2 linked regions of the Homo sapiens genome follow. The protein of the gene in region 1 purifies or fractionates together with the protein of each later gene. This does not show direct contact. Each region holds a gene or a part of one and is shown in the gene's direction. Other genes may lie near its edges.

Region 1 (7,032 bases):
GAGGACCCCGAGTGAGGGAGGGGCATAGCGGATGGGAGGACCCCGAGTGAGGGAGGGGCATAGCGGATGGGAGTCAGAGGACCTGGATGAAGCCCAAACACTGGGACAGGGTCCCGGCATCAGGACGAGTCCTTGGGGCTGTGTCAGGTCTGGGCTCACGATGAATCCAAGAATCATATGGGGCCTGAAGGCCGAGACAGCGTGAGCATGCGAGTGACCCCCTAAGCCTGATTTGCCTGGGACTTTTCCAGTTTTAGCACTGAAAGCCCTCGTCCTAGGAAACTGCTCAGTCCCGGACAAACCAGGATGGTTGGTCACTGTGGTAAGGAGGACTCTGGGGTCCAAGGATCATGACATTTCCAAGTACCTTGACGAGGTCTCGGGATTACAGCAGGAACTTAAGATCATCCTAGCTCTTTGGGTCATGATATAACACCCCTAGGCTCATGCCAGCACTGACACAAGTTCAAGCTGAGGAATGAGAAGCTGTCCAGGGACAAAGTCTAAGCAGGTTACCATGCCCCGTGTAGCCCTCAGAGGACCCTTCCTCCGGACATGACATCCCCTTAGGAGATGCTGGCAGTCAGCAAGCCCCCAGCCCCAGCAGACCATTGGGGCCTCAGCCTCCTGGAGGCCTCCCATGGAGGGGTCGTGAAGGCAGGCGGTTCCTCACCCTCCCCTCTCCCCTGTAGCGAGCTCCTGGAGGACTTGGAGAACAGCAGCAGCGCCGGGGGTATTGCCGAGTGCTTCGTGCAGAGGGTGAGTGGAGGGGTGGGGGGCTCTCGGTCCTGGATGGGGCCTTTGTAGAGGGGGGAGAGCAGGCTTGGGCTAGGCTGGAAGGGGGGTCGTGGGAAGCCAGGACCTGGGGTCTCCCTGACTCCCATGTCACCCGCAGAGCGAGGATTTTGACATCTACACATTGTACTGCATGAACTACCCGAGGTGAGGGGCAGGAGCCCCTGCTGGGCCTCAGGCTGTGCCCACAAGCTGATGTGCCAGTCACCCGTCACCCTCCCTCTACCCCCGACCCATCCAGCACCGACCCCTGCCAGGCTGTGACAGTAACTGACCTCTCCCTCACTGCCCCGCCCCCTGTCAGACCCTGACCCTTCCCAAACCCTGGCCCCTCCCTAACCCCTCTTGACCCCGCCCACTGGAACTGACAATCCCCACTGACCTGTGCTGTGCCCCCAGCTCCCTGGCCCTGCTCCGGGAGCTGTCGTTGTCTCCGCCAGCAGCCCTGTGGCTGCAGGAGCGCCAGGCCCAGCTTCGCCACTCGCTGCCCCTGCAGAGCTTCCTGCTGAAACCTGTCCAGCGCATTCTCAAGTACCATCTGCTGCTGCAGGTCAGCTGGGGCCCCTGGAGCCAGGCTGGGGAGGGGGAGGTCCTGTCCCTTGACCACCTGTTGGTTCATCTGGAGGATGGACCCCCCACGAGTTGGGCAAGGCCTCCCAAAGTGCTGGGATTACAGGCGTGAGCCACCGCGCACAGCCCTAGCTTTTTTTTTTCCCTTTGAGGTGGAGTTTCACTCTTGTCGATGAGGCTGGAGTACAGTGGTGCGATCTTGGCTCACTGCAACCTCCACCTCCTGGGTTCAAGTGATTCTCCTTGCTCAGCCTCCTGAGTAGCTAGGATTACAGGCGCACACCACCATGCCCAGCTAATTTTTGTATTTTTAATAGGGACGGGGTTTCACTACGTTGGCCGGGCTAGTCTCGAACTCCTGGCCTCAGGTGATTTGCCCACCTCAGCCTCCCAAAGTGCTGGGATTACAGACATGAGCCACTGCGCCTGGCCTCTGCCCCTATCTTTATATTTCTCCATCTCCTGTTATTCTCATTCTCTTTCTCCTTCTCTGTTTCTCTCCCCATCCCTGCGTGCCTGGTGGCTGCCTGACAGGAACTAGGGAAGCACTGGGCGGAGGGCCCAGGCACTGGGGGTCGCGAGATGGTGGAGGAAGCTATTGTGTCCATGACAGCGGTTGCCTGGTACATCAACGACATGAAGCGCAAGCAGGAGCATGCAGCGCGCCTCCAGGTGGCCCCAGGGTGGGCTGGGGCTTGCTGGATGAGGGAGTGAGCGAGGGGGCCTTGGGGCGGGTGGGGGGAAATCAGTGCCTCAGAGGTAGCCTTGGAGGGTTGGCTGGGACAGCATGGCCCTGTTGCTAACCCCCTGTTTTGGTGTGTATGTGTGTGCCACCTACCCATGCTTGTCTCTGCGCCCCGGCGCACCTGGCGGGGTCCCGGCAGGAAGTGCAGCGGCGGCTGGGTGGCTGGACCGGACCAGAGCTCAGTGCTTTTGGGGAACTGGTGTTGGAGGGCGCGTTCCGAGGAGGCGGAGGGGGTGGCCCCCGGCTACGAGGGGGTGAGCGGCTGCTCTTCCTGTTCTCTCGGATGCTGCTGGTGGCCAAGCGCAGGGGGCTGGAGTACACCTACAAAGGCCACATCTTCGTGAGTTTGGGGATGGGGTGGGGCTAGAATACTACCTACAAAGTATATCCCATATACCTGTATCTGTGTGCCCGGCAGTGTGGGCCAGGGGACCCTGCCACATTTTCTTGAGTTAGAGAATGGAAGCCAAGGGAAGCTTTCTTTCTAGTGTATAGAATGAGAGCTGCCCCACTTAAGAAAAAAAAGGAGAAGGCTGGGCGTGGTGGCTCATTCCTGTAATCCGAGCACTTTGGGAGGTCAAGGCGGGCGGATCACTTGAGGTCAGGAGTTCGAGACCAGCCTAGCCAACGTGGTGAAACCCCGTCTCTACTAAAAATACAAAAATTAGCTGGACGTGGTGGCAAGTGCCTGTAATCCCAGCTACTGGGGAGGCTGAGGCAGGAGAATTACTTGAACCCAGGAGGCGGAGGTTGCAATAAGCCAAGATCATGCCACTGCACTCCAGCCTGGGTGACAGAGCAAGACTCTGTCTCAAAAAAAAAAAAGGGAGAGGAAACCCACCATACAGCCTTATGGGATGCATCTTCCTAGGGAGGAGGACCCAGATACACCTCCAAGGGTGTCTCCGTACAAGGGGCATCACTGAGCCCAAGGACTCTGAGCTTGCTACCCCTCTCTTTCCTTCCAGTGCTGCAACCTGAGCGTGAGCGAGAGTCCCCGAGACCCTCTAGGGTTCAAGGTGTCTGATCTGACCATTCCCAAGCACAGACACCTGCTCCAGGTGAGCATGTAGTGGGATCAGGCTGGCAGGGATCCCCCAGCCTCGAGACCTCACACCTGGCCCCCTGACTCTACTCCAACCCACTCCTAGGCCAAGAACCAAGAAGAGAAGAGGCTGTGGATTCACTGTCTCCAGCGCCTCTTCTTTGAGAACCACCCTGCCTCCATCCCTGCCAAGGTACAGCTCCTGCCGCAGCCGGGGGCCCTCTGAGTGCTGGAGACACCCTCCCCCAATAGTACTAAGAGACGCCCCTGCCCAATGCCAGAGCAGTCTGTTATAATGTGATTGCTAAAAGTGCAGAATTCCGCTACTTGGGTTTGAATCTTAGCTCTACCATGTCCCTGCTTTGTGACCTTGGGCAAGTAACTTAACCTCTCTGAGCCTTAACTTCCTCACCTAGAGGAATGAAAGCGCCTTCATCCTAGGGTTGTGGTGATGAGTAATGGTCACCAGCCACGTCATGGGCTTGACCAATAGAAGCACCCATCAGCTGGCTGTGGTGGCTCATGCCTATAATCCCAGCACTTCGAGGGGGTGATGTGGGAGGATCATTTAAGCCCGGGAGTTCGATACCAGCTTGGGCAACATAGTGAGACCCTGTCTCTAAAAAACATTTTTTAATTAGCTGGGGCTGGCCAGGCACGGTGGCTCACACCTGTAATCCCAACACTTTGGGAGACCAAGGCGGGCGGATCACCTGAGGTCAGGAGTTCAAGAGCAGCCTGACCGACATGGAGAAACCCCATCTCTACTAAAAAATACAAAATTAGGCCGGGCGCGGTGGCTCATGCCTGTAATCCCAGCACTTTGGGAGGCCGAGGCGGGCGGATCACGAGGTCCGGAGATCGAGACCATCCTGGCTAACATGGTGAAACCCCATCTCTACCAAAAATACAAAAAATTAGCCAGGCGTGGTGGCAGGTGCCCGTAGTCCCAGCTACTCGGGAGGCTGAGGCAGGAGAATGGCGTGAACCCAGGAGGCAAGAGCTTGCAGTGAGCCTAGGTTGCGTCACTGCGCTCTCCAGACTGGGCAACAGAGTGAGCCTCTGTCTCAAAAAAAAAAAAGAAAAAGAAAAATTAGCTGGGCATGGTGGCGCATGCCTGTAATCCCAGCTACTAGGGAGGCTGAGGCAGGAGAATCACTTGTACCTGGGAGGCGGAACTTGCGGTGAGCCGAGATCATGCCATTGCACTCCAGCCTGGGCAAGAAGAGCGAAACTCCGTCTCAAAAAAATAAAAATAAAATAGCTGGGCTGGACGTGGTGGTTCACGCCTGTAATCCCAGCACTTCGGGAGGCCAAGGCGGGTGGATCACCTGAGGTTAGGAGTTCAAGACCAGCCTGGTCAACATGGTGAAACCCCGTCTCTACTAAAAACACAAAAATTACCGGGTGTGGTAGCGGGCACCTGTAATCCCAGCAACTCAAGAGGCTGAGGCAGGAGAATCGCTTGAACCCAGGAGGCAGAGGGTGCAGTGAGCCGAAATCGCGCCTTTGCACTCCAACCTCGGCAACAAGAGCAAAATCTCCGTCTCAAAAAAAAAAAAAAATTAGCTGGATGTGATGGTGCACATATGAAATCCCAGCTACTCAGGAGGGTGAGGTGGGAAGATCGCTTGATCCCAGAAGTAGAGGCTGGAGTGAGCTATGATTGCACCACTGTACTCCAACCTGGCGTATAGAGCAAGATCTAAAAACAAAAACAGCACCCATTAATGGGCATGACTACGGTGCTTAAAGTATCCTCTCTGTGGTACTCCAAGATCGACCCACCTCAGCCCTCATCCTCCTGTCTTTCAGGCAAAGCAAGTTCTCCTTGAAAACAGCCTGCATTGTGAGTTGGGGCCTTGGGCTGGGAGGGTGTGGAAGTAGACGAATTACTTCCAAGAAAAAGTTGGCTTTTAGCCCCAAAACTCTCCCCACAGGTGCCCCCAAAAGTAAGCCTGTCCTAGAGCCCCTGACACCCCCACTTGGGTCTCCTCGACCTCGAGATGCTAGAAGTTTTACCCCTGGGCGAAGGAACACAGGTAAAGGCGGTGGATCCCTGAGTCCCAGCCCTCAGCCCCACTTCCCTAGGACCCGGGAGCTGGGCTCACACAGGGCTCTGGCCCTCCCTCCCACAGCTCCATCTCCTGGGCCCTCTGTGATTCGCCGAGGCCGCAGGCAGTCTGGTGAGCACTCACCCCTAAGGGTGATCCAGGCATCGGGGTGGGAGCTGGGCTCCTGACATCACTGTGTCCTCCCCGCAGAGCCGGTGAAGGACCCTTATGTCATGTTCCCACAGAACGGTCAGTGACTGCCCCGGTTCAGCCTGGTCCATCCCTGTCTGTCGCCCGGTGGGATGTCTGGGGCGGGTTGGGGAGGGGTGGTTGCTTCAGCTCATCAGTTATGGGGGAATCACTCTTTTTCCCTTACATCTCACTAATGCTTCTCTCTCTCTCATCTCTCCATCCTTAGCTAAGCCTGGATTCAAGGTAAGAGATATCTCGAGATAGGGTCTGGGCACCTTGACTTCTGGGTCTGATGGAGAAGGGAGCTTGAGTTCCAAAATCCTGGGTCTGAATGAGAAGGGGATTGGGGCCAGACAGAGTAACTCATGCCTGTAATCTCAGTATTTTGGGAGGTCAAGGCAGGAGGATTGCTCGAGCCCAGGAGTTTGAGACCAGTCTGGGCAACATGGCAAAACCCCATCTCTACAAAAAGTACAAAAAAATTAGCCAGGCACACTAGTGCATGCCCATAGTCCCAGCTACTCAGGAGACTGAGGTGGGAGGATTGCTTGAGCCTGGGAGGCAGAGGTTGCAAAATGAGCTGGGACACACCACTGCACTCCAGCATGGGTCACAGTGAGACCCTGTCTCAAATAAATAAATAAAAATTTTAAGAGAAAAATAAAAAAATTTAAAAATTGAGCCAGGTACGGTGGCTCACCTGTAATCCCAGCACTTTGGGAGGCCGAGGTAGGTGGATCATCTGAGATCAGGAATTTGAGACCAGGCTGGCCAACAAGGAGAAACCCCGACTCTACTAAAAATACAAAAATTAGCTGGACATTGTGGCAGGCGCCTGTAATCCCAGCTACTCAGGAGGCTGAGGCAGCAGAATCGCTTGAACCCGGGAGGCGGAGATTGCAGTGAGCAGAGATGGCGCCATTGCACTGCAGGCTGGGCGACAGAGCGAGACTCCATCTCAAAACAAACAAACGCAAAAGAAGGGGATTGGGACTTGGGGTCCTCTATGTGAGGGAGGAGTCTTGGCTCTTGCCTTCCATTGCTTTCCCTCCTCACAGCACGCTGGCAGCGAAGGGGAACTCTACCCTCCAGAATCTCAGCCACCAGTTTCAGGCTCTGCACCCCCTGAGGACCTGGAGGATGCTGGACCCCCAACACTGGACCCCTCTGGGACCTCAATCACTGAAGAAATCCTGGAACTGCTGAATCAGCGAGGCCTTCGAGATCCAGGGGTGAGCTGGCTGTCCCATCATGGTGTCCTTGGGCCTCTGGGTGTGGGCACACAGACCAGGGACCAGATAGGCCAGCCCATGCTGATACCTTTATTTTTTTTTTATTTGAGATGGAGTCTTGCTCTGTTGCCGAGGCTGGAGTGCAGTGGCGCCATCTCGGCTCACTGCAAGCTCTGCCTCCCAGGTTCAAGCGATTCTCCTGCCTCAGCCTCCTGAGTAGCTGGGACTACAGGCACCCGCCAACACACCCGGCTAATTTTTTTTTTTTTTTTGTATTTTTAGTAGAGACAGGGTTTCACTATGTTGGCCAGGCTGGTCTCGAACTCGTAACCTCAAGTGACCCGCCCACTTCAGCCTCCCAAAGTGCTGGGATTACAGGCGTGAGCCACCACACCCAGC
Region 2 (4,840 bases), on another chromosome or scaffold:
GGAGGTGCACTATAAGAACCGCTTCTGGCATGACACCTGCTTCCGCTGTGCCAAGTGCCTTCACCCCTTGGCCAATGAGACCTTTGTGGCCAAGGACAACAAGATCCTGTGCAACAAGTGCACCACTCGGGAGGACTCCCCCAAGTGCAAGGGGTGCTTCAAGGCCATTGTGGCAGGTACTGCCTCCTTCCCACCCCGGGTTCCCAGGGAGGAGGCCCTGAGGGCAGACGTGATGTGGGCTTGCTTATCATGGTGGGGCTAACGTTGCTCTGAGCTGCTTTGAGATCTTAGCATATATATGTACACATATACATACACGTATATATGCGTACACATATATGCTCGCACACACGCACACACTCGGAGACTAAAGAACACTGGCGAGAACAGCCTGTGGCAACAGAATGAAGTGAACAGTATGTAGCGCTTTCTCATTTGGGCGTAGTAAGTGATGAAAGCATGCTTCTTCCTCAGGGTGTCATTCTGGGCCAGGCAGTCCCTGATTTAATGTCTAAGTGCACGCAGGGTATAGAGGTGGGGGAGTGGGGGATTCAGGCACTGGATCCTAAAATAATAATGCTGGGGTCCCCACCCATGACAGAAATCCTGGGTTGGCACAAGCACAAGTAGAACACAGGTAGGTTAGTTGGAGGTGTGAGGCCAGTAACTGCAGGGCCTGCATCCCCTCACCTCTGGAGGGCCTGGGGAGGGGAGCTGAGTGGATGCAGCCCCCTGCAGAGCCTGTCAGTGGGGCTATCCAATTGCTTCCCTCTGCAGGAGATCAAAACGTGGAGTACAAGGGGACCGTCTGGCACAAAGACTGCTTCACCTGTAGTAACTGCAAGCAAGTCATCGGGACTGGAAGCTTCTTCCCTAAAGGGGAGGACTTCTACTGCGTGACTTGCCATGAGACCAAGTTTGCCAAGCATTGCGTGAAGTGCAACAAGGTATGCTTTCAAGGGAGTTCTGCATTGACCGTTGTTTCTAGAAGTGTTTGACAGTTTGCAGAGCACTTCCACACACACTATCCCATTCCATCCTCACGACAGCCCTGTGACGTAGGAATTATTATTCCCGTTTTACAGATGAGGAGATCGTGGATTAGGAAGCAGTGCCACAGCCAAGTCAGGCTGTCAGTACGCATCCTCAGCCTGGTGGTGCGGGTGGCCCGTATGGCATGCTGAGCTGGGCAGCCCTGGCTCTAGAAGCCTGCCTCCACCACTTAGGGGCTGTGTAACCTCACATAGGGGCTCACCTTCTCCGAGCCTTGGTGTCTTCATCTGTAAAGTGGGGATAATAATAGCCCCTGCCTCCCATGGCTGTTGTGGAGATTAAATGAGATATTGTATACCAAAGCGCCCAGCACAGTGCCTGGCACGCAGTAGGCATTCAACAAAATGGTTGTTGAATCTGAATCCGGTGCTACACTCCCTGGTCTAGGCCATCACATCTGGAGGAATCACTTACCAGGATCAGCCCTGGCATGCCGATTGCTTTGTGTGTGTTACCTGCTCTAAGAAGCTGGCTGGGCAGCGTTTCACCGCTGTGGAGGACCAGTATTACTGCGTGGATTGCTACAAGAACTTTGTGGCCAAGAAGTGTGCTGGATGCAAGAACCCCATCACTGGTAGGCTAAAGAGTCCTTGCTAAGTCTGCCAGGCTAGGTTTTGCGCATGGTAACCATCTCTCATTTTCCTGTCGTCGGTTTCATCCACAAAGGCCCCCAGAGAATGCCCTTCTCCCCCTGCTATTGTGGTCCCAAAGGCCCCCCAAGAGTTTGGATTCGTCCCCAGGCCAGGTTAGCCTTTGCAATACAGAACACTTCCTGACTGTTGACTAACAATGCTGAGAGTTCACAAGCCTGAGACCTGCCAGCCAACACCGGCAGGCACTGCCACTTTGCAGGGGGATTCTGGGGGGAGGGGTGGGAGGAGGGTAGAAAGAAGGGGGTGGGGGAGGGTGGGGAAGGGGTAAGGGAGGCCGAAGAGTGATAACCCGGGATTGTAATACCCCATAGCTGAAGGCTAGTTCAGAGATGCCTGTTGGCAGGGTTTCTTTTTTTTTTGGTTTGCTGTTTATTTGTTTTTGCGATCAGCAAAGCTAATCACTTCATTCCTCATCTCGCGGCCGCGATCCACGTGCCCTGGGCCCTTTCCCTTGCCTCCAATTTTCCCATCTTCCCGGGGAGCCTTGAAATGTACATTTGAGAAGACTTTTGCCATCCTCAGGGAAAAGGACTGTGTCAAGAGTGAGCCACCCAGTCTCTAAAGCTAGGAAGCCCCCAGTGTGCCACGGGAAACGCTTGCCTCTCACCCTGTTTCCCAGCGCCAACCTCCGGGGCAGGCATCCGGGTGGAGAGAGGACTTGTCCCTCGTGGGTGGTGGTTCTTTATAGAAAAAATCGAAGCTTAGCAGCTCCTCGAGGCCCGGTAAGTGCACACCCCACGAACAGCCCAAGTTTGCCTCCTGGTGGCCACTTTGATGTCATGGCCCTGACCTAAATCAAAGAAACTGGTTATGCTGGGAGGTCGGTGCGCGTCACAGGGCAATAGCGTGGTGGCATGGGAACGTGGGGTCTTTACATCAGGGAAGCCCTTGGCCGGGCTTCAGCATCTTCTCAGGTCCTTGAGAGCCACAGCAGGGTTGCGGCGGCATGGGGGACAATGGCGGCGTGGGGGACTGTGCACGATGGAGTGGAGGAGGGGGTCTGGGAGCCAGGCAGACCTGGCTCTTGCGTGCTTGTCGGTCTGTGAGTGGGGCAGGTCGTCATTTTATCTCTCTGAATCGTGGTTTCCTCACCTGTATTCATTCAGCTGTTTCTCTTGTTTTCTTTTCTTTTCTTTTTTTTTCCCCCCAGGGTTTGGTAAAGGCTCCAGTGTGGTGGCCTATGAAGGACAATCCTGGCACGACTACTGCTTCCACTGCAAAAAATGCTCCGTGAATCTGGCCAACAAGCGCTTTGTTTTCCACCAGGAGCAAGTGTATTGTCCCGACTGTGCCAAAAAGCTGTAAACTGACAGGGGCTCCTGTCCTGTAAAATGGCATTTGAATCTCGTTCTTTGTGTCCTTACTTTCTGCCCTATACCATCAATAGGGGAAGAGTGGTCCTTCCCTTCTTTAAAGTTCTCCTTCCGTCTTTTCTCCCATTTTACAGTATTACTCAAATAAGGGCACACAGTGATCATATTAGCATTTAGCAAAAAGCAACCCTGCAGCAAAGTGAATTTCTGTCCGGCTGCAATTTAAAAATGAAAACTTAGGTAGATTGACTCTTCTGCATGTTTCTCATAGAGCAGAAAAGTGCTAATCATTTAGCCACTTAGTGATGTAAGCAAGAAGCATAGGAGATAAAACCCCCACTGAGATGCCTCTCATGCCTCAGCTGGGACCCACCGTGTAGACACACGACATGCAAGAGTTGCAGCGGCTGCTCCAACTCACTGCTCACCCTCTTCTGTGAGCAGGAAAAGAACCCTACTGACATGCATGGTTTAACTTCCTCATCAGAACTCTGCCCTTCCTTCTGTTCTTTTGTGCTTTCAAATAACTAACACGAACTTCCAGAAAATTAACATTTGAACTTAGCTGTAATTCTAAACTGACCTTTCCCCGTACTAACGTTTGGTTTCCCCGTGTGGCATGTTTTCTGAGCGTTCCTACTTTAAAGCATGGAACATGCAGGTGATTTGGGAAGTGTAGAAAGACCTGAGAAAACGAGCCTGTTTCAGAGGAACATCGTCACAACGAATACTTCTGGAAGCTTAACAAAACTAACCCTGCTGTCCTTTTTATTGTTTTTAATTAATATTTTTGTTTTAATTGATAGCAAAATAGTTTATGGGTTTGGAAACTTGCATGAAAATATTTTAGCCCCCTCAGATGTTCCTGCAGTGCTGAAATTCATCCTACGGAAGTAACCGCAAAACTCTAGAGGGGGAGTTGAGCAGGCGCCAGGGCTGTCATCAACATGGATATGACATTTCACAACAGTGACTAGTTGAATCCCTTGTAACGTAGTAGTTGTCTGCTCTTTGTCCATGTGTTAATGAGGACTGCAAAGTCCCTTCTGTTGTGATTCCTAGGACTTTTCCTCAAGAGGAAATCTGGATTTCCACCTACCGCTTACCTGAAATGCAGGATCACCTACTTACTGTATTCTACATTATTATATGACATAGTATAATGAGACAATATCAAAAGTAAACATGTAATGACAATACATACTAACATTCTTGTAGGAGTGGTTAGAGAAGCTGATGCCTCATTTCTACATTCTGTCATTAGCTATTATCATCTAACGTTTCAGTGTATCCTTACAGAAATAAAGCAGCATATGAATAACCTGCCTCCTGTCTTTTCATTCTGCCTGGTGGAATCGCTATAAGGTGATACTCCTAATCCAGAAACCTAAATGACTTATTTTCCTTCCAGGATATACTCACTTTAGTGCAGGCGCACAGAACATAGGAATTATAAACAAACCTGTAAAAACCACACTTGATTGATAAATAAATAATTAAAAACAAACAGAAACCACTCTGACCTAAAATAGTATTTCCCAGATTTTCACATCCCTGAAAAAGAAAGAAAACGATGAATTGGTTTGATTTGGCCAGGGGATTAGGGAGGGAATCCCTGATGAAGCATGGCACTGAGAAGCCATCTTGGTCCCTGTTTGTTGGGTGCTTCCTCGGTGTGCCTTTCCCCTTGTGCCCTCTGGAGCCTGGGGTCCAGGTTGAACGTGACCATCTCAACTGCGGCTGCCTCCACCTGCCAGCTGAATGACACCCTCGCTCCTTCTTGTGGATGTGGCTCACTAAGGAAGCTGCCCATTTGGGCCC

The links. The genes of interacting proteins can lie anywhere in the genome.
Region 2: the proteins of PLEKHG2 (region 1) and FHL1 purify together in Homo sapiens (affinity purification with western blotting; 2 studies listed by BioGRID). This does not show direct contact.

Annotation. Positions count from the first base shown.
Region 1 is NC_000019.10:39,415,656-39,422,687, forward strand, and holds part of PLEKHG2 (pleckstrin homology domain-containing family G member 2), read left to right. Parts: intron 1-692; coding exon 693-759; intron 760-895; coding exon 896-942; intron 943-1,194; coding exon 1,195-1,345; intron 1,346-1,899; coding exon 1,900-2,037; intron 2,038-2,249; coding exon 2,250-2,450; intron 2,451-3,078; coding exon 3,079-3,171; intron 3,172-3,261; coding exon 3,262-3,348; intron 3,349-4,970; coding exon 4,971-5,004; intron 5,005-5,095; coding exon 5,096-5,197; intron 5,198-5,293; coding exon 5,294-5,341; intron 5,342-5,419; coding exon 5,420-5,458; intron 5,459-5,627; coding exon 5,628-5,644; intron 5,645-6,459; coding exon 6,460-6,633; intron 6,634-7,032. UniProt on the Homo sapiens protein: May be a transforming oncogene with exchange activity for CDC42. May be a guanine-nucleotide exchange factor (GEF) for RAC1 and CDC42. Activated by the binding to subunits beta and gamma of the heterotrimeric guanine nucleotide-binding protein (G protein).
Region 2 is NC_000023.11:136,207,015-136,211,854, forward strand, and holds the end of FHL1 (four and a half LIM domains protein 1), read left to right. Parts: intron 1-1; coding exon 2-176; intron 177-777; coding exon 778-947; intron 948-1,440; coding exon 1,441-1,627; intron 1,628-2,228; coding exon of another isoform or gene 2,229-2,428; intron 2,429-2,856; coding exon 2,857-3,011; 3' UTR 3,012-4,340; downstream 4,341-4,840.